Homo sapiens: one gene and its partners. The protein of the gene in region 4 interacts with the protein of the main gene of each other region in a pairwise test. Each region holds a gene or a part of one and is shown on either strand. Other genes may lie near its edges.

The links.
Region 1: the proteins of TMEM120B (region 4) and GAD2 interact in binary tests that used the Homo sapiens proteins (3 or more experiments, as listed by UniProt).
Region 2: the proteins of TMEM120B (region 4) and TMEM143 interact in binary tests that used the Homo sapiens proteins (3 or more experiments, as listed by UniProt).
Region 3: the proteins of TMEM120B (region 4) and STX2 interact in binary tests that used the Homo sapiens proteins (3 or more experiments, as listed by UniProt).

Annotation. Positions count from the first base shown.
Region 1 is NC_000010.11:26,296,098-26,304,048, reverse strand, and holds part of GAD2 (glutamate decarboxylase 2), read right to left. Parts: intron 3,262-7,951; coding exon 3,088-3,261; 3' UTR 1-3,087. UniProt on the Homo sapiens protein: Catalyzes the production of GABA.
Region 2 is NC_000019.10:48,360,523-48,368,539, forward strand, and holds the start of TMEM143 (transmembrane protein 143), read right to left. Parts: upstream 3,419-8,017; 5' UTR 3,399-3,418; coding exon 3,376-3,398; intron 3,010-3,375; coding exon 2,769-3,009; intron 1-2,768. Other genes in the region: SYNGR4 (synaptogyrin-4), read left to right, coding at 5,321-5,413.
Region 3 is NC_000012.12:130,788,880-130,794,981, reverse strand, and holds the end of STX2 (syntaxin-2), read left to right. Parts: intron 1-3,004; coding exon of another isoform or gene 3,005-3,113; 3' UTR 3,114-5,382; downstream 5,383-6,102.
Region 4 is NC_000012.12:121,715,390-121,723,340, reverse strand, and holds part of TMEM120B (transmembrane protein 120B), read right to left. Parts: intron 1-7,951. UniProt on the Homo sapiens protein: Necessary for efficient adipogenesis. Does not show ion channel activity.

The DNA of each region.
Region 1 (7,951 bases), on a different chromosome or scaffold from region 4:
CTGAGGGCATGTTCTCTATTAGAGCCGATGTGGAGGGCATATAGTTAGGAAAGAGAGAGAGAGAGAGAACAGGAACAGATGCAAATGTAGTTTTCATAATATCAAAGTTCAATACAGCTACCACACAGAAAAAGACATATCAATAATATATTGTACAAGCTTTTACAGAAACACATGTTGATTTGCAACACTGTACAGTTCAGATCTAAAGTGCACAACCCCAATCTGAGGTGACAAGACAGTATTATCCAGATAATAAAGGCAACACAGTCAGAATTGATTTCCTTTTCTTTCCTCACATCCTGTGGCAGTATATGAAGTCCATACCATGTATAGGTCTCAGATAAAGACATATCACACTTGTTTGTTCAAGTATTTTAAATGATAAACACAATATTGCTGTATAAATGAAAATGGCCATGTCAGTTCTGATTAAAGCTAAAACCAAACTTTTCTAAGATTTGTAAAGAATGGGCACACATAAAGACCATGGCACTGGGAATTTGGGCTAATATTAAAAATAATCTCCCTTCTTTCCTCCCTCCCTCCCTCCCTTCATTTCCTTCCTCCCTCCCTCCTTCCCTCCCTCCCTCCCTCCCTCCCTTCCTCCCTTACTCTCTTCTGACCTGATTCCACATCTCCTTTCAAGATGATTTATTAAACTACTGGGACCTACTAGGCTTTTATTTGCTTCCTTCTTTGGGCTACAGTTGGTAAGGATTTCCCTGCACAGGCCTGAGCAAGGCTCTCAGCCAATTTGAAGGAGTACTGGGAAGGGGTAGGGGAGCGGGGAAGAAGAGCTATTGTTGTTGCTAGAATTGTTTTGCTGGAATTTCATATATAGGCACAAATTGTCCTTTAAAATTTTACCATCTCATTAACCTAAAAAGCAGCAGTTTATAATCTAGGATCTGTAACTCAAAAGATAAAGCATCCTGGAGTACAGCAGGGTTGGTTCACCAGGGCACTGGGCCCCACTGTCTTCTCCACGAAGGACAGCAGGTTGGATCAATTAGCATCTCTGTCTCTGAAGTGGAACCTTTGGGCCTGAGGCTCCGGATAGTCGGGCAGCTATGTGCTTATTCTCAGCAGGCAGTTTTGAGAAAGGAACTGCTTTCTAATGCTTTGTCTAATGCTTGGCCATTAGACAAAGCCTAGAATGGAAGGTTACTCCTTCATGAAATTCTGCGGGACAGATGAAAGAGTTTATTTCTGATTGTCATAGTGAACCCATTTGTTTTTCTAGACAGAAAGGGCCCAAAGCCATGTTCATATCAAGTTATCACTGTTTTTGCATATAGCCTAGGAGAAATAATGTAGGGGGAAGCTTATGAAAATTTCAGATGGCTGGATCCTGTGGTTATATTATAGGGCATTTCTCTATGTTATATTGTAGGGCATTTCTACCCGTTGAAGGGCAGGGCCTTCTCTCTTCCCTTGTATACCTGCAGTCTGAGTACTGAACTACCTGGTCCATTCAGAAATGGAGAATGTTCCTAAATTTGCATTTGCAGTCTGCATATCAATCTATTGTTCTCCAATCAGCACTTGGAATCTGACGATGTGTGACCCCATAAATATCTATGGAAGCTTTTGTTAGCTCATGTTTTTCTATCAGGTTCACAGGGAAAGAAGGATGTTTTAAAAATACTATTTTGAATTCTAAGGATCTTATTATTTCTGCATATTCTGGTCACTTTGGATCTCGATGGGAGATGGATAAAGGAAAATCTTAAGATAATGCCTCAAAATCTAGGGTGAGAGGCTCATTTCATGGAAGAAAAACAACCACCCATGGAATATAAAGTAACTATTTTGGGTCCCAGTGGTAGGGAGTCTAGTGGGAGAGACTTTGTGGGGAGGAATGGGGAGGGGATGGAAATGCGCAACTGGCCTGGAGGTAAATTTCTCTTTCCTGGACAGTGGCAATATGGCGCCAGGATGATGTCATTATTGTCCCACAGAGATCTCTTCTCCCAAGGCCAACTTTAATTTTCTGGGCTCACCACATTCTGGGAGTGTGCTTCATTCCTCTTTGCTCAGGCTGATAAGGTTTTATTTTTACTTTCTCTAATTAATTCAAATGACCTAATAAAAGAATACTATTTGGAAGATGCCTCAAGAACTAGCATCAACCTTCTGTTCAAAACAGGCCGAACTGGAAAGCAGAATAGAGACAATTACCCTAATTTAATCTGAGATGAAGCCTGGTTTGTCACGCTTGCAGAGTGAGTCCGCTAAGAGTAAAATGGGTGGAAAACTTAAAGGGGAAGAGAATCTTACTGCCAATGGGATCAATTATTTTAAAGAACTCGCAGTATTCTTTTGTGTTTGTCTTGAAATACTAACTTTAGAGATGTGATAAGCCATAACATGTATAGAAAGAAGCAATAATACCTTTTAAGAATTTCGTGGGTCAATGTTTCAAAATAACTTTGCTAAGTGTTTTATTGTGCCTCCATTAAGAGAAAGGAAAAAAAAATCTGGCTTAGATTTTATATCTGCCCCCGCAGTTTGTATAACCTATATAAAATAAAAATCTATATGTTACAAAATAGGATATCTTTTTTAATATATATATTTTCCTTTTGTAAAATTATATGTATTTAAATACATTTGAAATGTTGCTATAGGTAAATTAGAAATTTTTTTCTAATACTATGAAAAAGGCAAGAGTTTTTATTGTCAACATATATTTTATATTTACTTTGTCCTTTTTACTGCACCCCAAAGAACCTTTTATGATTCAGGGGCAATTTGGCACTATTCAGTCCTACTAGTCTGAAGTGAAAATAAAGTTTGCTTTGCACACTATATTAAAAGTAAGGGAAGTATTTATAACAATTTTAAGCTTTTCCTTATTGATTAGAACATAGCCTTTTGTCACGAATTCTTAGAGAGGTATTCTAAACTTAAGAAAGGACTTTTAAAAGGAGCAATGTCTTTTTTGTTTAATTTTTAAACTCTACTTTGACACCACAATATAGAAATAGATTTACTTTGGAACAAACTACAAATACATTCACACAGTTTGTGACAACTTAATTGTCTACCTAGAGAAGTGGAACAGCTTGGTGAGCAAGGTTATTATAAATCTTGTCCAAGGCGTTCTATTTCTTCAATCAGGAAGTCAATGTCTTGGTGAGTTGCCGCTGGGTTTGAGATGACCATGCGGAAGAAATTGACCTTGTCTCCCAAGGGTTGGTAGCTGACCATTGTGGTTCCATACTCCATCATTCTGGCTTTAATCACTGGAGCCACCTGTGGGACAGACCATATCAGCATGGTGACTTTCTCCTGGGACTCTCCCCTGAGTCAAAGAACCCAACAGCAAGCAGCGTCTTTAGTTTTTAGCTCAACAGTCAGAACCTTATTGTTTTCTCTTGAAAGAGTTACCTCCAAGTTTTCTTGGGATCAGAGAATTAGAACAGTCTAACACATTCAAGATCCTGCAAGTGATAAGAGGAATAATAAGTGATAGACTATCAGCTGCCTGCCACCTTGTCCTTGACTTTCCAGTTAGTGTTTTGGGAGGATGGGATGAATCTAGTATTGGCCCCAAGCTAAATGGGTTAGCAAGACGTTTGGGGGCATTTTCCCCCCACAGTAAATGTAAAAACATTGGAAATAAACAGTTCAGAGGATTGTTACCAAAATGTAAGTTTGAGTGTCAGGTGATATATGAAGATAAGCAGACTTTTGGCAACTTTCTTGAAACCCCAGAGCTTTCTAGTTTCTTTTCGTTCTCTCTTTGCAGTGCCTCACTTTATAAGATATTTTGAAAGATAATCCTTAATAATGATGATAATTAGCTGGGACAAAAAGCTGAACTCACAAGGACTTAACATATGTTTCATATCACAGACAGGATAGCATACCACAGACGAGATTATACTCTATTTATGCCAGATTTTTGATTATAGCCTCAGTAGCTCTCTATTGTATATGAAATTAAGTTTAAACTCTAGTTCAGTGCAAAGACCTTTCATCATCCATTTATGAGGCCTCATCTTCCACCACTTGCCAAAATGAATCTTCAACTCTGACAAGACTCCTTTATTAAATATCTCTTGAATTTACCATATGTATTTTTATCCCTTCACACTTGTCATCAGTGTTACTATGTCATACTTGTTCTCTGTGCTTAGAATCCATCCCTTTTCTCTTCTGGTTCATATCCTACACACACTTCAAGATTCCACCACAGTCCTACAACTGCTATGAAGCCTTTCCTGACTTCTAGTGTCCATCAGTAGCTCTCTTCCTTTAAGCTGTAAACATATCATCCATGATCCTTCCCCATAGATTCTGACTATATGCTAATTTCCTACTATCCTCTTACTTTCAAGCAAATACATTTTCTTTCTCTACCTCAACTGTCAGGTCCTGGAGGGCAGACACAGTGTCTTCTACTGTTTTTGTTGTTGTTCTTTACCAGCACAGTGCTTGGTTCATGTTGGGGGATTCCTAAGTTCTTATTGCTATAAAGAGTAGCATAATAGAAACAGCTATCTAGGAAGAAGCAAAAACTTAAATCATGTCTAACTGTACATACAGTCTATCCACATATATTTACCACTGGAGTTTGTAAATATATAATATCTGATCTTCATTTCTGCAAATGGTAGATAGACATCAGAGAAACTTTTAGACTTCTTTGAGTTTCATATGGTCAGAAACCCGGTTCAAAATGGAGACCATGCCTTCTATCACAGCTGGATTTATCTTAAATAGACAGTTCAATTCAAATGGAATGCTGTTATGAACATGTGACTTATAAATATCAACTCTTAAATAATCATTGGTTTATAATGAAGTTTTCATCTTCAAAGTATCCAATGCATAAAATAGCAATGTTCCCATTGGGTCCAATCATTTGTTAGTTACCAAAGACAAGGTCAACAGGTAGACTTCACCTTCACTTCTCATTCTGAACCTAATTTCCTTCTCTAAAAATGAACGTGGATGATTCCAGCATTGAGATCTTCTGACTCTACATTGAGTTCTTATATCCCTTCCCACCCCTTGTTCCATGGGGAGGAATGTTTCTCTTGGCCTGATCCTTCTTTCACCTAAAGCATTAAGAATGTATGCAGAGCACTGGACTCATCCCAGGGAATAAATAAGAAGAAGAATTAAAATATCTCAAATCTGAGATTAACTTCTGAAAATAGATCTACTAGCATATTCCAGCCAAAGGGGCATGGAATTTATCCTTTGTGTTGTGAGGCGTGTCAAGTCAATGTGGTTCCTGCGAAGATAAATCTCAGATTAGAAAAGGAATTCCAAATCCACTTGGCTGCAGGAATTTAAGGACAAGTCACATAACCATTCCTTAGTTTTATTTGTATAATAAATCACGCTTGCCCTTTAGAACTGATAAAATAATGACAGAGCTTTACTCAGTAAATTAAAGTCTCATTTAGTTTTCATGGGTAATCCAAGCAAAAATACAGAAGAATGGCACTAATTATTAAGGACAATCATCTCTAGCTTTTCAGATGAATGCAAATCAAAGGTTAAAAGATTAATGCTAACAGCCACAAGCAAACAGATTTGGGCATAAAGTAAGATTGAATCCCCTCAGTTCCCGAAGCAAGCTGAATTGGCAGAAATCACAGCTGTCTAAATACATATGACTTTTGGTTGCTTCCAGAAAATGCTGATGAACTAAAATTAGCCGGAACATGAACATCTACTTCGTTGTATATTCACTCATTGCAAGTTAAGAAGGAAAATAAGATTCGGACTATTCTGATGAATATATGTGATCTGTGGGGCCAAAATAGACACTCCTATATCAACTAAGATGGGTCCAGGGTTCAAGGCCTGGCTGGAGGGCAAATTACTAAATTCCTAATGATTGAAATTCCCTAACAATAGGCGCTATGAGACCCCCTCCTTACCCTGATTTACTAACCAGACCACTATAACTCTGACTAGACAGAAGACTGACCTTACACACATTCTTTCCTGGTAAGCAATTGCAGACCTTAAGCCAGTTTTAGCAGCTTATAGATGCGGTGCACAAACTGTGTTTATGTCCTACAGTTCACCTTTTGACATGAAGAGCCAAATTTCACCTCATTCTAACACTAAAACCCTGCCCCGAAGTAAACATGGGATGTATGTTACATATATGTTTACTCATTCTGCATGTGCTCAGCTCCCCTCATAAATATGGATAGCTTTCCCCCAAAACCTACTGAATATGTATGACTCTACTGTGTGATACAGGCCCTGTGAGGCATAAAACCCAACCTGCCCTTCCTCTCTTGGAAGAGAGGGCACCTTCCACACATGCTGGAGGCTGTCTCTTCCCAGTTTGCAAACTGATATCATCAATAAAGCTCTCCTTTCTACTATCTAGCCATCCCAGTGGTCTTTTGGATGAAATACATAGAGATTTCACTTATTTCTAGGCTTTTGTACTTTTTGGTTGGATTCCTAGTTTTCCTAAATAAAGAACGCAAGTTGAGAAAGAGTGGTTGCATGTTGAAGAATTCGCTAAAGGTATAGTCAACAAGAGCTCTTTGGGCCTGCCTTAATAATTTTAGGGTATTGTCTTCTCTCTTGTGCCATTAGCTTTTTCAGTCCTTTAGAAAGCAATAACCAGGCGACTTTTCCATAATTGGAATCCACATTTGTCCCTTTCAAAGAGGGTGCATAGTAAAGCATTATGAAATAAACTTAAAAGATATCACAGAAATGTATTTTTCACTATGTCTTAGAAAACCTCTTTGTTTTTACATTTTGGAAGACTGCGAGAAATTTCTGAAAAATGTAAAAGCAGAATAATTAAATGAGAAATTCTAAACTGTTGGCTAGGCTTGGTGGCTCATGCCTGTAATCCCAGCACTTTGGGAGGCCGAGGTGAGCCGATCACTTAAGGTCAGGCGTTCGAGACCAGCCTGGCCAACATGGTGAAACCCCGTCCCAACCCTGTCCTGACCAAAAAATATAAAAATTAGCTGGGTGTGGTGGTGTGTGCCTGTAATCCCAGCTACTCGGCAGGCTGAGGTGGGAGAATCACTTGAACCTGAGAGGTGGAGGTTGCAGTGAGCCGAGATGGCACCACTGTACTCCAGCCTGGGCAACAGAGTGAGACCCTGTCTTAAAAAAAAAAAATTCTAATATGCGAAAATTTCACCAATTAAATCCTCTATTGCACTTAATAACACAGACTTTCAAAGAGTCTGTATTAAATATAAGTCCAGGCTACTTCCTTACAAATTTAGTATTAAATCCACTGCTAACCTTTGAAAAGTCCTCCAATCAGTGTAGGACTATAAAAGCTGACAGAACCAGATAATGATCAAGAATAAAAAAAATTAAAATAAGAAGATAAAGAACCAGAAACACAAGAGGTGATCAATAGACCAGCCCTTTTGATTCTTGTTTGGTAAACATTGGCACAGCCCACTTGCTGCCCCTCCCTGTGTCCAAGGCATGTGTGTGGCGTCACATCCTCATAGTGCCCCAAGCATTCATCATCTGCACTGCCTCAGGGACAAAGCGCCATCTGCAAGATCATAGTCCTGACAGAGCAGCAGGAAGCACACTGACTGGATTCTCGTGTTTACCACCCTCATGAAGATATGACTGTATTTGCTTTATTAATAACTTCTGTTATCCAGATATTTGTCCCCAAATAGTGCACTCTGGAAAAAGGCTTATGAGCCACTATTAGGTTTCCTAAATGTTGTTTCCCTTCCTTATTCTGGAATATGCCTAAGGTATTTGCTATAGACTGAATTTTTCTGTCCTCCCAAAATTTATATGTTGAAATCTTAACCCCTCAATGTGATGATATTAGGAGATAGGGCCTTTGGTAGGTGATTAGTTCAGGAAGGCACAGTCTTAGGGACCCCAGAGAGCTCCCTTGACCTCTTTCTGCCATGTGAGGATACAGGGAGAAAAAGGCCATTGACGAACCAGGAAGTAGGGGTTC
Region 2 (8,017 bases), on a different chromosome or scaffold from region 4:
AGTCGAGATCGTGCCACTGCCCTCCAGACTAGACAACATCAAGACTCTGTCTCAAAAAAAAAAAAAAAAAAAGTTTTGTTTTGGTTGGGTGGGGGCTGACCAATTTTACTGAAACTGAGGCAGCCAAATATAGTGAAAAACTATACTGGGCTTAAAAAGCTGGAGGTTCAAGTTTTTGCTTTGACATTTCCTAGCCAATACACACACACACAATTCCAGGAACGGTTTGACAGTGTAATATCATCCTCCAGAAGTAGATGGAATTATTATTATTATTATGTTGAGACAGAGTCTCGTTCTGTCACCCAGGCTGGAGCTCAGTTGTGCAATCTCAGCTCACTGCATCTTCAACCTCCTGGGATGAAGCGATCCTCCCACCTCAGCCTCCTGAGTAGCTAAGACTACAGGTGCCCACCACCATGCCTGGCGAATTTTTTTCAATTTTTTGTAAAGGTGGAGTCTCACTATATTGCCCAGGCTGGTCTGAACTCCTGTGCTCCAGCAATCCTCCCACCTCAGCCTCCCAAAGTGCTGGGAGGCTGAGCCACCATACCCCCAAGGTTGATGGAATTATAACTCCCATTTGTCAGTGGGAGAAACTGAGGCTCTGGAAAAGTCATTTGGTAAGGGCTGCAGTGTCTGTGGGAAATGACTGCTATCTAGGCCTGTCTGACTCCAGGGTACACATTGAACCATTTCCTTTTTTTTTTTTTTTGAGAAGGAGTCTCACTCTGTTGCCAAGGCTGGAGTGCAGCGGCCATGATCTCAGCTCACTGCGACCTCTTCCTCCACGGTTCAAGCAATTCTGCCTCAGCCTTCTAAGTAACTGGGATTATAGGCGCCTGCCACCACGCCTAGCTAATTTTTGTACTTTTAATAGAGACGGGGTTTCACCATGTTGGCCAGGCTGGTCTCAAACTCATGACCTCAGGTGATCCACCTGCATCGACTTCCCAAAGTGCTGGGATTACTGGCGTGAGCCACCATGCCTGGCCTTGAACCACTTCTTCTTCTTTTTTTTTTTTTGAGATGGAGTCTTGCTCTGTTGCCCAGACTGGAGTGCAGTGGCACGATCTCGGCTCACTGCAAGCTCCGCTTCCCGGGTTCACACCATTCTCCTGCCTCACCTCCCAAGTAGCTGGGACTACAGGAGCCTGCCACCTCGCCCGGCTAATTTTTTGTATTTTTAGTAGAGACGGTTTCATCGTGTTAGCCAGGATGGTCTCAATCTCCTGACCTCGTGATCTGCCCGCCTCGGCCTCCCAAAGTGCTGGGATTACAGGCGTGAGCCACCGCGCCCGGCCTTGAACCACTTCTTTATGTTTCCTATGTCAATGTCCTGGGTAATTGTCTTCACTTCTCTGAGCCTCAGTTTCCTCACTGGCAACAGAGGATTACACGCTCTTTCTTGGAGGGCTACGGTGAGAATTTGATGAGATTACACATGTCCTATATACACATGTGTTTACATATATGTGCATATATTTGTATATTTATGTGTGTATATTTGTGTACTTTTGTGTGCATATATTTGTGTGTGCGTGTATTTGTGTGTGTGCATTTGTATGTGTATATTTGTGTATTTGTGTACACATATTTGTGTATTTGTGTGTGTACTTGTATGCATATACTTGTGTGTATTTGTGTGTGTGTATTTGTGTGTGTATCAAGTCCAGCACAGAATTGAGTACATACAGTAGGTGTTCAGTAAATAAATGTTAAATTAATGAATGATGGTGAGGTGTGGTGGCTCATACCTGTAATCTCAGCACTTTGGGAAGCCAAGATGGGCAGATCACTTGAGGCCAGGAGTTCGAGACCAGCCTGGCCAACATGGCAATACCCTGTCTCTACTAAAAATACAAAAATTAGCCAGGCAAGAGTCCCAGCCTCTCGGGGGCTGAGGAAGGAGGATCACTTGAGTCTAGGAGGCAGAGGTTGCAGTGAGCTGAGATTGTGCCACTGCACTCCAGTCTGGGCAACAGAGTGAGACCCTGTCTCACAAAAATAAATAAAGAAAAATAAATGAATAATAATCCTCAAAATCCTCAATAATGACAATGATGATGATGGTGGCAATAAGACCTCAGGTTCTAGAGTGAGACCAAGACTAGGATGAGGTGAATATGGCACCCAAGGGTGCAAAATTTAACGGGGCACTCACTCTTAGGGTCAAGCGAGTGCCCTACTTGCCTAACCCTAGTCCTGGGCCAGCTCTGGAGTCAGACCACTTTGGTTCAAATCTAAGCCACTATGTTGTGGCCTTGGGTAAGTCACTTTCCTTCCCTATGCTTCCATTATCTCATCTGTAAAATGGGGATGATGGTGGTATCTCTCTTACTGATGATTCAACAATACATGAAAAATGTCTGGCACAGTGCCATGGAGTCAGAGCTCAAATTGTGTGATAATAATTATGATTACAGCGTTGTGACTTTATAGGTACAATTATTATCAGGTAGTAGAAATAGTAATGATGAGGATGATTACTATACCCATCTTAAAGAGGGAAAAACCATGCCCCAGAGAGTGCCTGTTCAAGCCCTCAGAACAAGCCAGAGTTGGGAATGGATGCTGCGTCTGCATCTCGGAGACCTGGCTCCTGCATTCCAGCTCATCTCCCGCCCACTAGGGAAACACGAAGGGACCCGGGAACTACAACTCCCAGGAGGCGCCAGGGCAGCTCTCTGCAGCAACTAGGGCCCTGCCGCCGCGAAGCCTGCTGGGAGCCGTAGTCCCCAGGCTCTTGGGCCTGGGACAGGCGGTACCTGTATTAGGAGGCGGAGCAGCTGCTCCTTGGAGAAGGGAATGAAGCGCTCGCGGTACTGCTGGGCCCAGTCGCGGGGCTCCCTGGGGTTCCACATCTTGCGATACTCCCCCATTTTGGCTGCCAGCGATGAGAGGGCCCGGGGGGGCCCGAGGAGCGCGGGCAACAGTGGCCATACTCGGACCCTGGACCCCCAGACCCCCCGGGTCACATGCAGCATGGCTAGACCCTTTCCCCGGAGCCTAAACAGAGGAAAATGGGCAGGGGTCAAAGGCCATCTAGAGGAAAAGCGCCCTCTCCACCTCCACGTCCCACCCTCCAGAAGCCGTCTCTACCCCAGGCAGGGCGCAGAGCCCATCCGCTCGCCTCAAAGCCCCTGTTGCCTGTCCCCTTCCCACACTGCTCAGTTGGCCTGGGTCCCAGACAGGGGTCAGAGGTCTTAGGTTCTGGGGCGTTTTTCAGGCCCAGAGACCCTGTAGTGGTACAACGTTTCTTTGGGGTCTAGACAGCGAGGTAGATCTTAGGAGAGCAGGAAATGCTCGTAAAGGTTACCTAGGGGGTGCAGGGCCGCCCTCCCTGGCCATGCAATCCCCCGATTTCTCCCTCACCTTAGCCAAAGCTCGACTGTCATTGAGCCTCCTGCGCATGTGCAGGAGGGCGTCCTGGGCTCCCGAGGTTCGGCTTCACCCAGCAGTAAAACGCATGCGCAAAGCTTCGGTCAATGCGGGCTGTCCATTTCTCACCGCCGACTCCCTACATCAACTACGCATGCGTTGCCTGCCTTTCTCCACCGCCGGCCTCGTTTGGGCGCGACGCATGCGCCGCAGGAGTGTCTCCTTGTCAGCTTGCTACAAAGGGAAGGGGCGGTGTGGACGCGAGACTCCCTAGAGGGATGGGGCGGGGTAGGGCTCCCGCGCGCAGTCCGCCAACGGCGCGCAGTCCAACGTTCGCCGAGGCCACGCCCCGGCTCGTGTCAGCTCCTGAGTAGGCGGAAAGAGGGAGGGGGCGGGACTTGGGCGCAGCCAATCAGCTGTGGAGGAGCGAAAAGGCGGGAAAAAGCGGAACCAAAAGAAGGCTGAGGTGGCGCTAGGGACCAGGAGGGGTGGGGGTGGCGAAAGGAAGGGCGGGCCCTCAGGTGACGCAGATTGGCCCTCCAGAGAAGGGGCGGCCCCTTCTCAGGTGCCGTCACCCCCAAACCTCAGCACTGCCATTCCAGGTCCTTAAAGGGGAGACCGCGATTCTAAGAAGGTAGCCCAGTGCCGGGGCGTGGCCTCATTCTGAGGTTCCCCACAAATCCGAGGTCCCGACTCCCAGCTTGAGGAGGTGCACTTCCGTGAAAATGGAGCTGAATTCGAAAGGGAGGCCCTTATTCTGGGAAATGGCCCCAAGTGACAAGGACAGCCTGAAATATGCCCTGAGATACCTGGGTTCTCCACGAAGGGTGCTGTCACCCCCAAACCTGAAAGGGATTATTCGGTTTCAGACCTCCCAGGGGCTCTGATCTCAATGGCCGCACCCCCTAGTCCCCAGAAAGTCCCACCTGTGTCCTCTCACAGAAGGACCCAGTCCCTCTGCAGGCCCTTCAGCTCCTGGGTCACAAGACGTGGTCCCCAAATATCCCAGCCCTCCCCTGCACTCCACCTCTGGGATCCCTGACAGCCCTCTCGCCCAACAACCCCCTCAGCCCACATTCCTGACTTCTGGAACCTGAAGCAGCCCCTTCACTTATGTCCCCCACTCCTGGGACCCCCAGAATCACCCTCACCCCAGGCCCTCACCTCTCTGGAATCCTCCATAGACCCCCTTAACCCACACCTCAACCCAGGGGACCCTTAGCGACTCTCTCATCCTGCACCTCCACCTCTGTGACCCCTGGCAGCCCTCCCCACACGACACCTTGCCTGGGACCCCTAGTATCCCCATCCTATGCCCCCCTCTCCTGGGACCCCCAGAAAGCTCCCTCACCACACACAACCCCATTCCTGGGAACCCCCAGCACCCGCATCCTATGTCCCCCACTTCAGGGACCCCTAGCAGCCCTCTCCACACAACACCTTTCCTGGGACCCCCCAGAACCCCCATCCTATGCCTCCCACTTCTGGGACCCCTAGTAGCCCCCTCACCACACAACCCCATTCCTGGGACCCCCAGCACCCCCATCCTATGCCCCCCACTCCTGGGGCCCACAGAAGCCCCCTCAGCACACACAACCTCATTCCCTGGGACCCACCTGCACCCCCATCCTACGTCCCCGACTTCTGGGGCCCCTGACAGCCCATTCACCCCACACCCTGACTCCTAAGAGGCTCAGCAGTCCCCTCACCCCACACAACTCCATTCCGGGGACCCCCCCCATCCCCACCCCATGTCCCCCAATCCTGGGGCCCCCAACAGCCCTTCCACCCCGTGCCCCTGACTGGCATCCCCCATCTGTGTCATCCCACAGCAGCCAAGCCCAGGGCTGGCCTGAAGCCCCCGGACGGCAGTGCCCAGCAGGCAGCGCCCAGCACCCTGGCTCCCACCTCCCAGTGGCCCCAAAGGAAAACAGCTGCCATGCACATCCCCAAAAGCCTCCAGGAGCTGGCCAACAGCGAAGCCGTGCAGTTTCTGAGAAGGCCCAAGACCATCACGCGGGTCTTCGAAGGGGTGAGGCCCTCCCATGGCCCGACTGTGCCCCTGGGTGACAGGAGCCAGGAGCTCTCAACTCCCAGACACAGTGCGGGAGATGGGAGGACAAGGAAGGGGTCAGACGGGGAAACAAGACAACGGAGCAAATGCTGACACCACCTTTTCCTGAGCACCCCACTATAGGCCCTATGCTATTGAGGCACTGATGGACTCTCATAGTAAGGAACAGCCCTCACAGTAGGTGCTGCAAGTCCCATCTCTGAGATAACAAAACTAGGGCTTAGAAAAGTTAAGTAAATTTTTTTTCTTTGAAACAATCTTAATTAGCCAGGCATAGTGGCACACACCTGTAATCCTAGCTACTGAGGAGGCTGAGGCAGGAGAATCACTCGAACCCGGGTGGTGGAGTTTGCAGTGAGTGGAGATCATACCACTGCACTCCAGCCCAGGCAACAGAGCCAGACTCCATCTCAAAAAAAAAAAAAAGAAAAAAGAAAAGAAAGAAACAGTTTCGCTCTGTTGCCCAGGCTGGAGTGCAAAAAGCAGTGGCGTGATCTCCGCTCACTGGAACTCCACCTCCTGGGTTCAAGCGATTCTCCTGCCTCAGCTTCCCAAGTAGCTGGGATTACAGGTGTGCGCCACTGCGCCTGGCTAATTTTTGTATTTTTAGTAGAGATGGGGTTTCGCCATGTTGGCCAGGCTGGCCTCAAACTCCTGACGTCAAGTGTTCTGCCCACCTCAGCCTCCCAAAGTGCTGGGATTATAGGTGTCAGCCACCGCGCCCAGCCTAAGTAAATTTTTTAAATCTGGGATGTCCAGTGGGGTAGCCACAGCCACATGTGGCTACCTCACTTTGCACTAATTAAAATAAAAGTCCATTCTTCACTCACAGTGGCCACATTTTAGGTGCTCAACAGCCACATGTGGCTGGGGACTCTCATATTAGACAGTACAGGCTGGGTGTGGTGGTTCATGCCTGTAAAACCAGCACCTTGGTAGGCCAAGGCAGGCAGATCATTTGAGGTCAGGAGTTCGAGACCAGCCTGGCCAACATGGCGAAAACCCATCTCTACTAAAAATACAAAAATTATCCAGGCATGGTGGCGCAAGCCTGTAGTCCCAGTTACTTAGGGGGCTGAGGCTCAAGGATGGCTTGAGCCCATGTGGCGGAGGTTGCACTGCAGCCTCGGTGACAGAGTGAGACTCTGTCTCAAAAAAAAAAAAAAAAATTGTGGCTGGGCACGGTGGCTCACACCTGTAATCCCAGCACTTTGGGAGGCCGAGGCGGGCGGATCGTGAGGTGAGGAGATCGAGACCATCCTGGCTAACACGGTGAAACCCCATCTCTACTAAAAATACAAAAAAATTAGCTGGGTGTGGTGGCAGGCGCCTGTGGTCCCAGCTACTCTGGAGGCTGAGGCAGGAGAATGGCGTGAACCCGGGAGGTGGAGCTTGCAGTGAGCCGAGATCACACCACTGCACTGCAGCCTGGGCGACAGAGCGAGACTCCATTTAAAAAAAAAAAAAAATTAGTGCAGATATGGGACATTTTCATCATGCCAGAGAGTTCTATTAGACAGCATTGGCTAAGGTCACGCAGTAACAGGCAGGGGCAGGATTCAAACTCAGATCTGTGAGATGCCAGAGCCCATTTATTTTCCACCTCCCAGTTGAGGGAGGAGGAGAAGGAGAGGAACAGGGGCTGGGGCTTCTAGGAAGAGAATAAGGAGTGCAGCCCTGAAGTGCCAGATGTTGGGTGGTAACCGTGTGCCAGGCACCATGCCACCGTTCATTTCATCATCCCCACACTCCTGAAGAATCTGGACACCTGGAGTCAAATCCTCATTCAGCCCAGACTTTGCTGTGTGATCTTGAACCAATCACTGTTCATCTCTGGATCTCAGTACATGAAGGGTTAGGGCTGTGGCTCTGACCTTTAACCTGTGCTGCTTCCACCACTCCGCTTTAACAGAATTGGAAACTAAGGCCCAGGGAGATGTTGAGACTTGATCGAGGTCTTAGGAGTAGGTGGAGTTCCCCGGCTCAGACCCAGGGTCTCCACCCCCAGAGTGCTAATCCAGAGTATCTCCTCTCTGCCCCTTCTAGAGCCTGAGCTTGGAGAAGGAACAAACAGGCCTGGAATCCTGGCTCAGGCACGTGCTGTCCATGCAAAGTGGCATACTGCCCAGTTTACCTGGGCCAGGCCTGATGTCCTTACCAGCAGCAGCAACTTTCTTTCTCAAAAGTGCCCCTTTGGTTTGATGGCTTGCCTGGTCACCCTGTGTCCGTGTGACCCTGAGCAAGCTATGTGATTTCTCTGAACATCTCCTTACTCTCGTCTGTAAAAAGAGGATCCTAATAATCTACTCCTAGGAAGAATCATTGTGAAAATGTAACAAATTAATGCCTATAAACTGATTAGCATGGGCCAGGCAAGTAGTGATCTTTCCTTAGTGATTTTTTTTTCTTTTTCTTTCTTTTTTTTGAGACAGACCCTTGCTCTGTCACCCAGGCTGGAGTACAGTTGGTGCAGTCTCAGCTCACTGCAACTTTCGCCTCCTGGGTTCAAGCAATTCTTGTGCCTCCGGAGTAGCTGGGATTACCAGCGTGCACCACCATGCC
Region 3 (6,102 bases), 9.1 Mb from region 4:
AGTGGCAATGCTGTCGGTGTGTTACAGGTGGACACAGCAGTGATTTCTCTGTAAATGTTTGGCACAATTCTTGTATTAGACAGTTGTGAACTGTTCCCAGGTGTCTAGAGTGTGGCAAGTCATCCCCAATGAATTTATTCTTGGGTTATGGAAGTGACTGCAGACTTGATAGTCACCCAAGGCTTTTTAAAAAGTTAACATACAGCAGAAAGGAATCACGAGCATGGTTAAGTCTCACTATTGCTTTGTAATCTTTAAGATTTATTCCTTCAACATGGCAACACCCTGTCTCTACAGAAAAAAAAAAATCCAAAAACTAATTGGGCATGGTGGCACACGTGCCTATAGTCCCAGCTACGCCAGAGGCCGAGGCAGGAGGATCACCTGAGCCTGGGGAGGTCGAGGCTAGAGTGAGTCTAGATCGCACCACGGCACTCCAGCCTGGGTGACAGAGCGAGACCATCTCAAAACAAGAGATTGATATCTTAATGTGAGCATCTGTTACGCTCACCATGCAGTTACCAGATGAGAAGTTTTCCAGTTAGTCTTCTGACATTTATGCAAAAGCCACAAAATTACACCTGAAATTACTCTGTAAGGAGCTCTGGGATGCTGCGTGTGTTAACATTCCATTATTTGGCAGTCAGAACTCTCTTACCGTCTATTTTTATTAGGCAGGATGTTTGTGTAGGATGTTTATTAGGCAAGATGTTCTATTTTTTTCTTCTTAGCTTTGCTGAAAATATTGTACGTGATTTTTCTTCATTGTTATAGTAGTATTTTTCAATATTTTCATGATTCTAACATGTACTTTCTGAGTTTTTTCCTAGTAGCTATAATATGGTTAGTTTAATGTGGTTACACTAAAGATAAAATTACAATTTGTAGCGCGGACACAGTGAAATGCGCGACTTTTCATGGGCACTACTTGGCATTAAGGTTGACTAAAAGAAGGCTCCTCTCAGTGTGACCCCTGGGGAGTGGGGCTTGAAGTCCTGTGCCCCGGGCCTGGCTGGCCATTTCACCCTAGTGTCTGTAAATAAGAATGAACATAGAAGGATCCTCATTCATAAAAAGCAGACCAAAATGAATACCAGCAGTTATCTTTGCATAGGAAGGCAGTGGTTAATGTCCTTAACTTCACTTTTAAAATATTAACATAGCCTTTCATCCTTTAGCAATTGGCCTTCCTGGGGCTGGCTGCTGCCCCTCCCTGCAGGGTGTGCCAGGTGCAGGCCTGTCACCCCGGAGCATGGGTGGGATGGGCTGCTTTAAGGAGACAGGTGGAGTCTTACAGGTATTCGGTGAGAGGGCCCTGGCCCAGACCTGGAGCTGGACTCCCCAGGGTGTACCCTTTCCACTCTCGCTGTCACCAGGAGATTAGATGACTCCTGAGTCCTGTACCCTAGACTCCATGTAGTTGACAGTCATCCTGAAAGCCAGATGTGGCAGGAAAGTGCACACACATCGAGCACCCAGACACGTGGCAGGCAGCACAACAGCAGCAGGAGATGAGAGCACGCTGCGTGGAGCTGACTCCAGGTGGCCCAGCTGCCAGCACACTCACTTGCTGAGCGGGAGGGCGCGCGCCTCCCTCTGGAGGGAGGGAAGGCATCACAGAGAAAAGGAAGAAGAGGTTTCTCTAGGAAGGTGCTGAGAGTGGGGCGTAGGAGCGCATATAGAGGATGAGAGAGTGGCTGGGGCTTTGCAGGAAATGTGCGTGATGTTAACAGGGAACCAGAGTTTGAGGGAGGGGCCCTCCTGCAGGCAGCTCTCCCCGGTCCTGAGGAGTCACTGGGAGGCTCACCGGGGCCTGCCATGCGCCTCTTGATAACCCTGTATAACTGACTGAGCCGGCAGTCTTGGAACTGTCCAGGCTCAGCAAACAGGATTTCTTAGGTAAAAGCACTCGTACATTTGGAACTGTAATTAAAATGATGGATCTCTGCTGTTCAAAAAGAGAACTCAAAGTCCTACAGCGCGGTGCCTCCTGTTGTGTCTTCCTTTCCTTCCCTCAGACAAGCTTCCTGGAGGAGACTCCATTTATTAAGCCAAAGGTGGTCTCGCTTTGCCTTGTGTGAGGATACTTGTTAATTTTAAAAAAGTTAAATGCTGTGTCGCACCCTGCTTCCAGACCATCAGTGCAGTAGAAGAATGAATGAATGTCTTGTTGATTTCTTACACATTTGTCATATTTAAATGTAAAAAATGGATAAGGCCAGGTGCAGTGGCTCATGCCTGTAATCCCAACACTTCGGAAGGCCAAGGCAGGAAGATCGCTTGAGCCCAAGAATTCGAGACTAGTCTGGGCAACATAGCAAGACCCCATCTCTTAAAAACATATTTTTTAATTAGCTGGGCATGGTGGTGCATGCCTGTCATCCTAGCTCCTTGGGACACTGAGGTGGGAGGATTGCTTGAGTCCAGGAGGATGTGTTTGCAGTGAGCCATGTCTGCACCACTGCTCTCCAGCCTGGGCGACAGAGTGACACCTCCTTTCAGAAAAGAAAGAAAAAATAGGATTTTTCAGCCAACAAGAAATTCGTTTAAAGTTTTACAAATATGTGTAATTCATCCAATTAAAAGCAATCCTGGAGTTTTATTATGATTAAAAGAAAGTGTCGGCCGGGCCTGGTGCCTCACGCCTGTAATCCCAGCATTTTGGGAGGCTGAGGCGGGTGGATCACGAAGTCAAGAGATCGAGACTATCCTGGCCAACATGCTGAAACCCCGTGTCTACTAAAAATACAAAAATTAGCTGGGCGTGGTGGCGGGTTCCTGTAGTCCCAGCTACTCGGGAGGCTGAGGCAGGAGAATCACTTGAACCCGGAAGGCAGAGGTTGCTGTGAGCCAAGATCACATTCTTTTCTATGACATGGAGGAGTCCTTTCTTGATAATGGATGTATTTTTTAAACTATCCCAAATCCCAGAAGGATTAGTTAGCAAATGCCATTGTTGATTTCTTTGATACATTGCAAATTAATGTTTTTCTTTATCTTGCAGAAATTGATGTTCATTATTATTTGTGTAATTGTTTTGCTTGTGATCCTTGGAATTATCCTAGCAACAACATTGTCCTAGCAACCATATCCCAAGAGCCATTTATCCTTGAGACTCAGACCACATCTGCAACCAAATCAGCATCCTGTCATTTCGTGAATGAATCTCAGACGCTGTAACCCGGCATCGAGTGCTGACCTTGTAATGTATGAGTTCACGGAAGAAGCACAACCGAACGTCTTGTTCAGTGACAGCGCCGTAAGCACAGTGGGTGTGATGCGTGACCCTGAATGACACACTACAGAATGTGAGCAGTGTGAGACTTCTCTCACTGGCCTTGAAATAAGAAAATATTGAACATTTTAATATTAAAAATATTTCAGTGTTAACAAATGTGCATGAAGTTTAATTAGGAAGGAATGCTTTATGTTATGAAGGCTTTTTTTTTTTTTTTTGAGACGGAGTCTCGCTTTGTCATCCAGGCTGGAGTGCAGTGGTGCGATCTCAGCTCACTGCAACCTCGGCCTCCCGGGTTCAAGCAATTCTCCTGCCTCAGCCTCCCGAGTAGCTGGGATTACAGGCATGGGCCACCACACCCAGCTAATTTTTTGTGTTTTCTTTTTAGTAGAGACGGGGTTTTACCATGCTGGCCAGGCTGGCCTCAAACTCCTGACCTTGTGATCCACCCACCTCAGCCTCCCAAAGTGCTGGGATTACAGGCGTGAGTCACCGGGCAGGCTGTTCTGAAGCTTTTAGATCTCAGGTCTAAGGCTTCCTTTCCCTCCCTCTCCCAGCTAGTTTGTGCTAATTAAGAGACCTTTTATACTGTTTTATTGCCTGTTTGAAGAAATAATTTTTATCACGTTTTTGTAAGATATCTATAATTTTAAATGTTTATAAATTGTTTAATTTATTAGCATCTTAATGTACCCCATTTTTATATACTGAATGTGGCCTTTTGAGTGAAATAGGAAGCTTCATGGTGTTGGAGCCACCTTTGTACAGTTGTTTAAAGTTTCCCATTGTCACGGAAAACATTGGCTGCAAAGCCCCTCAAAGCCCTCAAGTGCCTTCTGTGAGTTTAAATGTGCTGGTGCCCTCCAGAAAAGCCTCGGCCTCAGCTCCGTTTCCGCCTGTTCCCTCCCCCAGGATAATGAATGGTTACTGCACTGTAAAGACCGTGGTCTCTTTTCACTAAATAGGAGATTCGAGTTTCCCAGTTTACATGAATGAAGTCTGAATTTAAGACGGTGATGAAACTGAGGTTCAGTACTCTCGGGACTCGAGGAAATTATTCCTGAGACATGGAGTAATTCTTACAAATTTAAACTATTGTACAGATCCACATACATGTTGTTAAGTACCTAATGTTTTGCTGAACTTTTAAAAGTTAATTTCCAAAATGTATAGGGATTCATGATAATTAAACCTTTTTATTGCTCATTTTTTTAGTAGAAGAATATCACTTATTTTTAGACTTGTAAAATGTATGAACTGGTGAGCGGACATCTGTTAAGAGAGTCACTAGTCAGAATGTTAAAGGAGTGCATGCAGGATGCCCCAAATGTCGTGAACTCTTGTTACTCCTGTATGTAGTAGTGTAAGCATGTGACTTTTAACACCATTTGGTTTGAAACTAATGTAGAGATGCCTGATTCCAAACAGGTGTGGAGAATATTGAATGGCTCAGAAGCCGCGTCCCTTACTTAACACAATTCCGAATCTCCCTCATCCATGATGCGTCCATTGGATCACTCGCTGGTGGTCACTGTGTGGCAGTTACTAGGGGAATTCTGCCTCTGACTGTTCTTTTTCTTTTGGTCTTTAAACACCCTGTCGTGGGATGTGCTCACTGATTTGTGGCTATGTTGAAGGTATCACTTGTCTTGAGGGTTTTCAATATTTCAGGATCATGCTGGTGGCAAAAGGACTCCACGCCTCTGTGGAATCATGTCCACAGGGGGACCTGCCTCCCGTGATGTCCCACCTTTCCTTCAAGGTCTGTCATATGAGTCCTCCCCTTTTACAACACTTATTATGGTATTTTTCAAGTTATTCTTCTTAGATTTGCAGTACCTACTGAAATTTGTGTTTTTATAGTTGAAGTTAGGAAAATGCTATTTGATTTGTATTTAGATATTTAAGTCACTTGTCCAATGATGTGTATGTCTAAGCCTCATGTACCGATTTGAAGTCAGACTTAAAAATGTATTTACAGATTCACTTGAGACTTTTTAATCGGTTCTTCAAATATTTCATGTTTACATTAAAAATTTCCAGAGAAGCATAAAAGTATTCACTTTCCTGCCTTGTCATTTCTGGAAAGATTTTGGGGAGATATTTTATTGCATATTAATTAATAAATTGTTCTACTAGGAAAATTGCTCTTGTGGCTGTTACTGTGTGTCATGATGTAATTTTTGGAGTATTTGGTGATTTGTTGATGATTAGTGTATATTACAAGCTTCTGTGGTTCACGGCTCAGTTGTCAGTACCATGTATTAAGGGACTTGCTGGAATTCTTGCTGTTTCTAACAGATACCAAGTCAGTGAATTTGGGCTCTATCTCAAAGTCACTCTGTTTGAATTCTTTTGTCAATTTGACACATTCCATTTGTTAATGGGGGGATCTCCCCGCCCCCCACTATGTTCTGAGTTATCCTCTATACTTAATCCTCATTCAGAGTTTTTCTTATTAAGTAGAATTTCTTTACTTCCTCAACTGAATTCTGATCATATTGGAAAGTGACAGTTGAAAACCACTATTGAAAAAAAAGAGAAGATAGAACTGGAGAAAACTAATTCATGGAGACAGAGCCCTAGATGTTAATTTTAATCTATTTCTCTATTTCTCCCAGAATGAATTTCCTTCCAAATCAGTCTTGACGTGTACAGTCAATAATTTATTTATACTTTTTAAAGACACTGTAATCCTATAGTATTTATTGCCTAAATGACTTTTTATGAATGTCTTCAGCAAATCTACACTCACATCCTTTCATGAGTTTAAAAAGTGGATTAAACCGAGGTGGAATTCAAACTGGAAAGGTTGCATGTCCACTAGAGTAGCAGAAAAACCTGGAAAAACTGCTGGCCTCGTG
Region 4 (7,951 bases):
AGAACATTAGCTGAGCACAGTGGCACATGCCTGTAGTCCCAGCTACTCAGGAGGCTGAGGTGGGAAGATAGCTTGAGCCTAGGAGTTCAAGGCTGCAGTGAGCTATGATACCGCCACTGCACTTCAGCCTGAACGATGGAGTTAGACCCCCCTCTCTCTTAAAACAAAACAAAACAAACAAACAAACAAACAAAAGCCAGGCGCGGTGGCTCATGTCTGTAATCCCAGCACTTTGGGAGGCGAGGCAGGCGGATCACCTGAGGTCAGGAGTTTGAGACCAGCCTGACTAACATGGAGAAACCCCGTCTCTACTACAAATACAAAATTAGCCGGGTGTGGAGGTGCATGCCTGTAATCTCAGCTACTTGGGAGGCTGAGGCAAGAGAATTGCTTGAACCCGGGAGGCGGAGGTTGCAGTGAGCCAAGATCGCGCCATTGCACTCCAGCCTGGGCAACAAGAGCGAAACTCCATCTCAAAAAAAAAAAAAAAAAGTAAATTTAAAAAACTGCCCACACCTTTGTAAACAGCCCCTTATTTTCAGCGAGACCTTCCTGAGACAGCCATTGACTTCTTGCTTGGGCCCTGTCTGAATTTCCATGATAGCACCAACTGTGGTCTTTATCACTCCTTTGCAAGTCTTTATACTTGGACTACATACAATGTATCATTAAGCAATATACTGTGTTGTTTTCAATGTTTTTGCCTTTATTGCAAGTGCCACATTGTACATACCCCTCTGCAACTTTCTGCAGGATGTTAACACAGGTAGCTCAGTTTATTCACTCTCCTGCTTCACCTCTCTCTGGGTGCTCAGTGTAATGATCCATTCCCACGGACGTTCAGGTTGCCAGTTTTTAGTTGTGTTATAAAAACTACTATGCATGGCTGCTACATGAATTTTTAACTGTGTGAATATGTATTACTTATAAAAATGTAGAATGGAGGCCGGGCACAGTGGCTTACGCCTCTAATCCCAGCACTGTGGGAGGCTGAGGTGAGCAGATCACAAGGTCAGGAGTTCGACACTAGCCTGATCAACATGGTAAAACCCCGTATCTACTACAAATAAAAAAATTAGCCTGCTGTGGTAGCACACGCCTGTAATACCAACTACTCAGGGGGCTGAGGCAGAAGAATCGCTTGAACCCGGGAGGCAGAGGTTGCAGTGAGCCGAGATCGTGCCACTGTATTCCAGCCTGGGCAACAGAGCGAGACTCTATCTCAAAAAAAAAAAAAAAAGGCCAGGTGTGGTGGCTCACGCCTATAATCCCAGCACTTTGAGAGGCCAAAGCGGGCGGATCACAAGGTCAAGAGATCGAGACCATCCTGGCCAACATGGTGAAACTCTACTAAAAATACAAAAATTAGCTGGGCATGGTGGCACATGCCTGTAGTCCCAGCTACTCAGGAGGCTGAGGCAGGAAAATCGCTTGAACCCGGGAGGCAGAGGTTGCAATGAGCTAAGATTGAGCCACTGCACTCCAGCCTGGGCGACAGAGCAAGACGCTGTCTCAAAAAAAAAAAAAAAAAAAAAAGTAGAACTGATTCCATTCAAAAAAAAAGGAGGGCCAGGGCTGAATGCAGTGGCTTATGCCTGTAATCCCAGCACTTTGGGAGGCTGGAGTGGGCGGATCACGAGGTTAGGAGTTCAAGACCAGCTTGGCCAACATGGTGAAACCCCATCTACTAAAAATACAAAAATTAGCTGGGCGTGGTGGTGCCTGCCTGCAATCCCAGCTACTCGGGAGACTGAGGCAGAAGAATTGCTTGAAACCAGAAGGCGGAGGTTGCAGTGAGCCAAGATGGCACCACTGCACTCCAGCCTGGGCAACAAGAGTGAAACTCTTGGTTGAAAAAAAAAAAGGAGGACCAGGCACTCATACCTATAGTCTCAGCACTTTGGGAGGCTGAGATGGGAGGAATGCTTGAGGCCAGAAGTTCAAGACCAGCCTGGGCAACATGACAAAACCCCATCTCTACAAAAATTACAAAACTTAGCCAAGTGTGGTGGTGTGTGCCTGTAGTCCCAGATACTCAGGAGGCTGAAGAGGGAGAATCACTTGAACCCAGGAAGTTGAAGCTGCAGTGATCCATGATGGGACCACTGCATTCCAGCCTGGGCGACAAAGTGAGACCCTCTCTTACAAAACAACAACAAAAAGGAGAACTGCTCACATGAGCTCTGTGAGCTGTCATGCCCAGAGCATCTTCCCTACTTGTCTAATTACCATCCTCCGCATGTAGAAGACACAAACAAGCAAGTTTCCTTTGGAAGATTCAGGGATCTCTGCCACCTCTGCTGTCCTCTGAGACCCAAGCTCTGCCCCAGTGGGAAGATGAGGTTAATGACTCCTGTTCCCAGTACAGATGTGAAACATCTGAAGACACCTCCTTAACACATCTTGGCTGTCGGAAGATCCAGGACTGGGGAGTCAACATGTGTTGCAGGAATTGCTAGAGGAATCTCACGGCATTTACAGACATGGTTCTGGCCCAGGAGCATCAGAAGTCGCTGGGCAGTCCAGTAGACTGCAATAGGGCCATACCGCCACTTAAGTGTGGTGCCTTAGAGCTGTGCCTCTTGCTGGTGGTAAACTTTCAAGAGATTCCTTTTTTTTTTCTTTTGAGACACAGTCTTACTCTGTCGCCCAGTCTGGAGTGCAGTGACACAATCATGGCTGCTCACCACAGCCTTCACCTCCCTGGGCTCAGGCGATCCTCCTCTCTCAACCACCCGAGTAGCTGAAACTACAGGCCTGTGCCACCATGCCTGGCTAATTTTTGTATTTTTTGTAGAGACAGGGGTTTTGCCATGTTGCCTAGGCTGGTCTCAAACTCCTGAGCTCAAATGACCTGCCTATCTTGGCCTCCCAAGGTGCTGGGATTACAGGCATGAGCCACTGTGCCTGGACAAGAGATTACTTTTATATAGCTCTAAGAAATCAACTTCAAATAGACTTTCAGACGCTGACTATACTTAACCAGGACTCATCACCATAGAAACACCACCAAGGATGACTTCGCCTAACGTGTATGCGTCCTGTGCGGGACAGATTCTGAGTCATGTGTCAGAATCCATGAACGGTATGTTACGGGAGCGGTAAGTGGGGGTCTGTGCGTGGGAGGCACGCATTTGGGTGGCATGAAAACACAATGGTTAAGTGATTTGATGCTGCCATCAAGTTGCCCGAGTTCAGATCCAGAGCCTGCCACTTATTAGCTGAGTTATGTAATCCCTCTGTGCCTCGGTGTCATCAGCTGTGAAAGAGCTAGGAGATGAGGTGCATGCAGCAGGCTAGGCACTGTCACAAAGATGTGACATCATCAAGAATGTAGTGTGGGCCGGGCAAGGTGGCTCATGCCTATAATCCCAGCACTCTGGGAGGCCGAGGTGGGCAGATCACCTGAGGTCAGGAGTTCGAGACCAGCTGGCCAACATGGTGAAACCCTGTCTCTACTAAAAATACAAAAATTAGCCAGGTGTGGTGGCATGTGCCTGTAGTCCTAGCTACAGCTACTCAGGAGGCTGAGGCAGGAGAATCACTTGAACCCGAGAGGCAGAGGTTGCAGTGAGCCGAGACAGAGCCATTGTACTCCAGCCTGGACAACAAGAGCAAAACTCCGTCTCAAAAAAAAAAGAATGCAGTGTGGCCTAACATGCAACTGTGAACCACCCCCTTAAACTACCCCCGTTAGCAATTTAAGCAGTGTCCAATCGATGCCACTGTTTCCCTTGAAGAAAAAAACATTTTTTGAGACAGGGTCTCACTCTGTCACCCAGGCTGGGGTGCAGTGGCAGGATCTCAGCTTACTGCAACCTCCACTTCCTGAACTTAGGTAATCCTCCCACTTCAGCCTCCCAAGTAGGTGGGACCATGGGTGCACGCCACCATGCCTAGCTAATTTTTGTGGTTTTTTGTAGAGTCAGGGTCTTACTACATTGCCCAGGCTGGTCTCAAACTCCTGGGCTCAAGCGATCTACCTGCCTCAGCCTCCTGTTGGGATTACAGGCATAGGCCACTACACCCAGCCAACAATTTCTATTAGCCCCCCAAAAGGTGCCTGTCCAGCATCCCTCTCTCTGTTTTTTTTTTTTAAACTACCAGCTTTTTGATTTTCCTTCATGGGACCATCCCTCCCCAACTCGTTTCATGTAGTGTGGTGGCACTGATCCCACTTTTAGGCTTCAGGAGCAGATATGTGACCGTGACCTGGCCAATCAGTGCCACAGTGACTGGTTAAGTAAGGCATAGTCACATGACCCAAGCTGGGCCAATGAGAGTCAGCCCTGGGACGCTTGCTGAAACCACAGGGGGAAAGGATGCTCTGTTTCTGCCAGAGCTGCTAAGCTGACAGATGTCAGCTGAGGGCCACCTGGCCATCTTTGCCACAACATGGGAGGGACTGCCTGAGAATAATGCTGACACAGAGGAGAGAGAGAGAGACATCCACACACAGACACAGACATCACCTGAGCTCCTGGATCCAGCCTTGCCTGAAGCCATTTGCCACTAGACTTGACTCAATAAACCCTCTTTTGGCTTAAAACCAGTCAGACTGGGTTTTTTTCATTTGCAACTAAGAGTCCTGATAGTGCATTGTGTGAAAGCACTATATAAATGAAAAGGGACCCAGCAAGTTCAAAACTTTTCTTCTAGAGCTAAGAGTCTCAGGATACTTTTGGAGCCCACGGTATTAGTATCTGAGTTATACAGCAGGCATGGGTTCGAATTCTGGCTCCATGACTTTCAAGTTACTCAGCATCTCTTAGCTTCAATCTCCTCATCTAAAAAACAGGGTTGTCATTCATTCATTCACTCATTCATTTATTTTTGAGACAGGATCTCACTCTGTCACCCAGGCTGGAGTACCCTGGCACGATCTTGGCTCACTGCAACCTCCGCCTTCTGGGTTCAAGCGATTCTTCAGCCTCAGCCTCCCAAGTAGCTGGGATTACAGGAGCGAGCGACCAATGCCCAGCTAAGGTTTTTTTTTGTTTTTTGTTTGTTTGTTTGTTTTATAGTGATGGGGTTTCACCATGTTGCCCAGGCTGGTCTTGAACACCTAAGCTCAAAGTGCTCTGCCCTCCTTAGCCTCCCAAAGTGCTGGGATTACAGGCATGGGCCACTGCGCCAGGCCATGGGTTGATATTTAGATTAAATGGGATAATCTGTGTTTCACGCAGTTAGCTATTATTGTTATTGTTGTTGTTATGATTATTATTATTGTCAGCCTTTGTTTTTAGATAAAGAAACTCAACCTGAGAGAGGTGGCTCACCAAATTCAGATACTAGACAATGGCAAAGCTAGGACCTGAACTCAAGAATACTGATTCCCTGTGCAGTGTCTTTTTCTGCACAATCTGCTACTAAAGAAAGATGCCCGGCTGGGTGCGGTAGCTCACGCTTGTAATCCCAGCACTTTGGGAGGCTGAGGCAGGCGGATCACAAGGTCAGGAATTCGAGACCAGCCTGGCCAACATAGTGAAACCCTGTCTCTACTAAAAATACAAAAATTAGCCAGGAGTGGTGGCACACATCTGTAATCCCAGCTACTCGGGAGGCTGAGGCAGGAGAATCGCTTGAACCTGGAAGGCGGAGGTTGTGGTGAGCTGAGATCGAGCCACTGCACTCCAGCCTGGGCAACAGAGCGAGACTCCGTCTCAAATAAAAAAGAAAGAAAGACGCCCCACAAGCCAAGATAGAAGAGAAACAAAAGCTAACAGGAGTACTCAGGGCACAGATGAGCCTAGGGCAGTAGTTAAGAGCACAGACACTGGTGTTCAACAGCCTGGGTTCGAATCCTGGCTCCTGCACTGACAGGCCATGTGACCTTGGATAAGTGACTTAACCTCTGTAAAACAGAGATTCTAGGATCAATTTCATAGGGTTATTAATGAAATAATGCTGATCTTCTTGCTTCGAGCCTGTCTCCCTGATGTCTATTCTATACACAGCAGCCAGACGGATGTACATGTCATTAGCAGTAAAAGCCAAAATCTTTACCATGGCCTTCAAGGCCCTTGCATCACTGTGAGGTCAGACTTAGGGAAAAGCTGCTACGGGCCACCTTCTTCCTTGGCTGGGAGGAACGAGATCAGGTTTCCAGTGATGCAAGGCAGGAAATGCTCATTAAATTACTTGCCCTTGTGTCTGTAAGTGACCTTCTGCGGTCACGCCACAGGCCAGGAGACCAGGAGCACACTGGTCTCAGACTAGCACTCAACTCACCAGCATGCCTGAAACCCCAGCCACCCAAAAACTAAGTCCTCATGGAGACTCAACTGTGCCCCAGGGTTCAGGAAGGCCCTGACACATGCAAATCACAGTCCAAAGAAAACTGATCCTTTCCTCTCCTCAGTCCCAGAGATTACATTGGGTTTTCTTGGGGTGGGGAGGAGGGAAATTCCAAAGATCTTTCAAATCTTCTGGGGTCTGAGAATTAGGTTTGCTCTTTCTTTCCTTCATTCAAAAAAGGAAAGCCAGGTGCAGTGGCTCACGCCTGTAATCCCAGCACTTTGGGAGGCCAAGGCAGATGGATCACGAGGTCAGGAGTTCTAGACCAGACTGGCCAAGATGGTGAAACCCTGTCTCTGCTAAAAATATAAAAATTAGCCGGGCACGGTGGCGGGTGCCTGTAATCCCAGCTACTCAGGAGGCTGAGGCAGGAGAATAGCTTTAACCCGGGAGGCAAAGGTTGCAGTGAGCCAAGATTGTGCCACTGTACTCTAGTTTGGGCGACAGAGCAAGACTGTGTCTCAAAAAAAAAAAAAAAGAAAGAAAAAAAAAGAGAAAAAGAGGTAAGACACAGAGACATTACACATTGTTACACATCACCCCAGAATCAATGAGATACAAATATGAAACCCTCAACCCGGATTCTAAGGAAGATGTAGGAAAATTAAAATAGACCAGGATTTTCTAGTAGAAAAAAAATCCTTCCTATTGTTAAGCTTTCTAGTTCAGTGTGCCCACCTACCTACCTGCTGTTACCTGCTTGTTCCCCAACAAATCTCTTTTTTTTTTTTTTTGAGAGAGAGGGTCTAACTCTGTCACCCAGGCTAGAGTACAGTGGTGCAATCATGGCTCACTGCAGCCTTGACCTCTGGGGCTCAAACAGCCCTCCTACTCCAGCCTCCCTAGTAGCTGGGACCACAACCATGCACCACCACACCCAGCAATTTTTTTTTTTTACTGTTTGTAGAGACAGGGGTTTCCCTATGTTTCCCAGGCTGGTCTCAAACTGCTGGGCAATCCTGCTGGGAGCGGTCCTCCCAACTTGTCCTCCCAAAGTGCTGAGATTACAGGTATGAGCCAATGCACCGAGCTCCCAACAAATATCTCGTATCCGAAACTGCCCAGCACATACGCAATGGACATCCTACTTACCATATACAGAGTCCCAGAGCCTTGCATCTTGAGAGTTCAGAGCTCTCACATCTAACATGAAGGGGAACGTGAGAAGGCAGAGAGGGGCCTACCAATATTTAGAGAACTAAATTATGGCCCCAACTTTACCACTAACTAGCTGTGTGGCCCCCGTCCAGGGAATCAGCATGCCCAAGCTTCAGTTTCCTCATCTGTGAATTGAAGATGTAGATGGCAGTTTCTGCTCCGATCTATGATCTTGACACCGGGAGCCATCCCTGACTGGCCCCTGACCCAGCAGGTGACCACCAAAGCCTGCAGCAAGCAGGCTCCCTCTTCCCCAAAGTAGGATGCAGTCCCTTCTAGTTCCCCCATCATGAACCGAGCAGGAGGCATCAGTTTCCACTCACTCAGACCTTCTTCTACAACCCTTGCTGTGCACCAGGGAACAAAATCAAGAATTGATTCCCAATCCCTTTGTCCCTAACATACCTCAGCATCTGAGGACCAAGTCCTAAGAAAGAGTCAAACAACTCCTTTGCAACCTCTGCCTGCCAAGACTTGCTATCTAATTGCTGTTAAT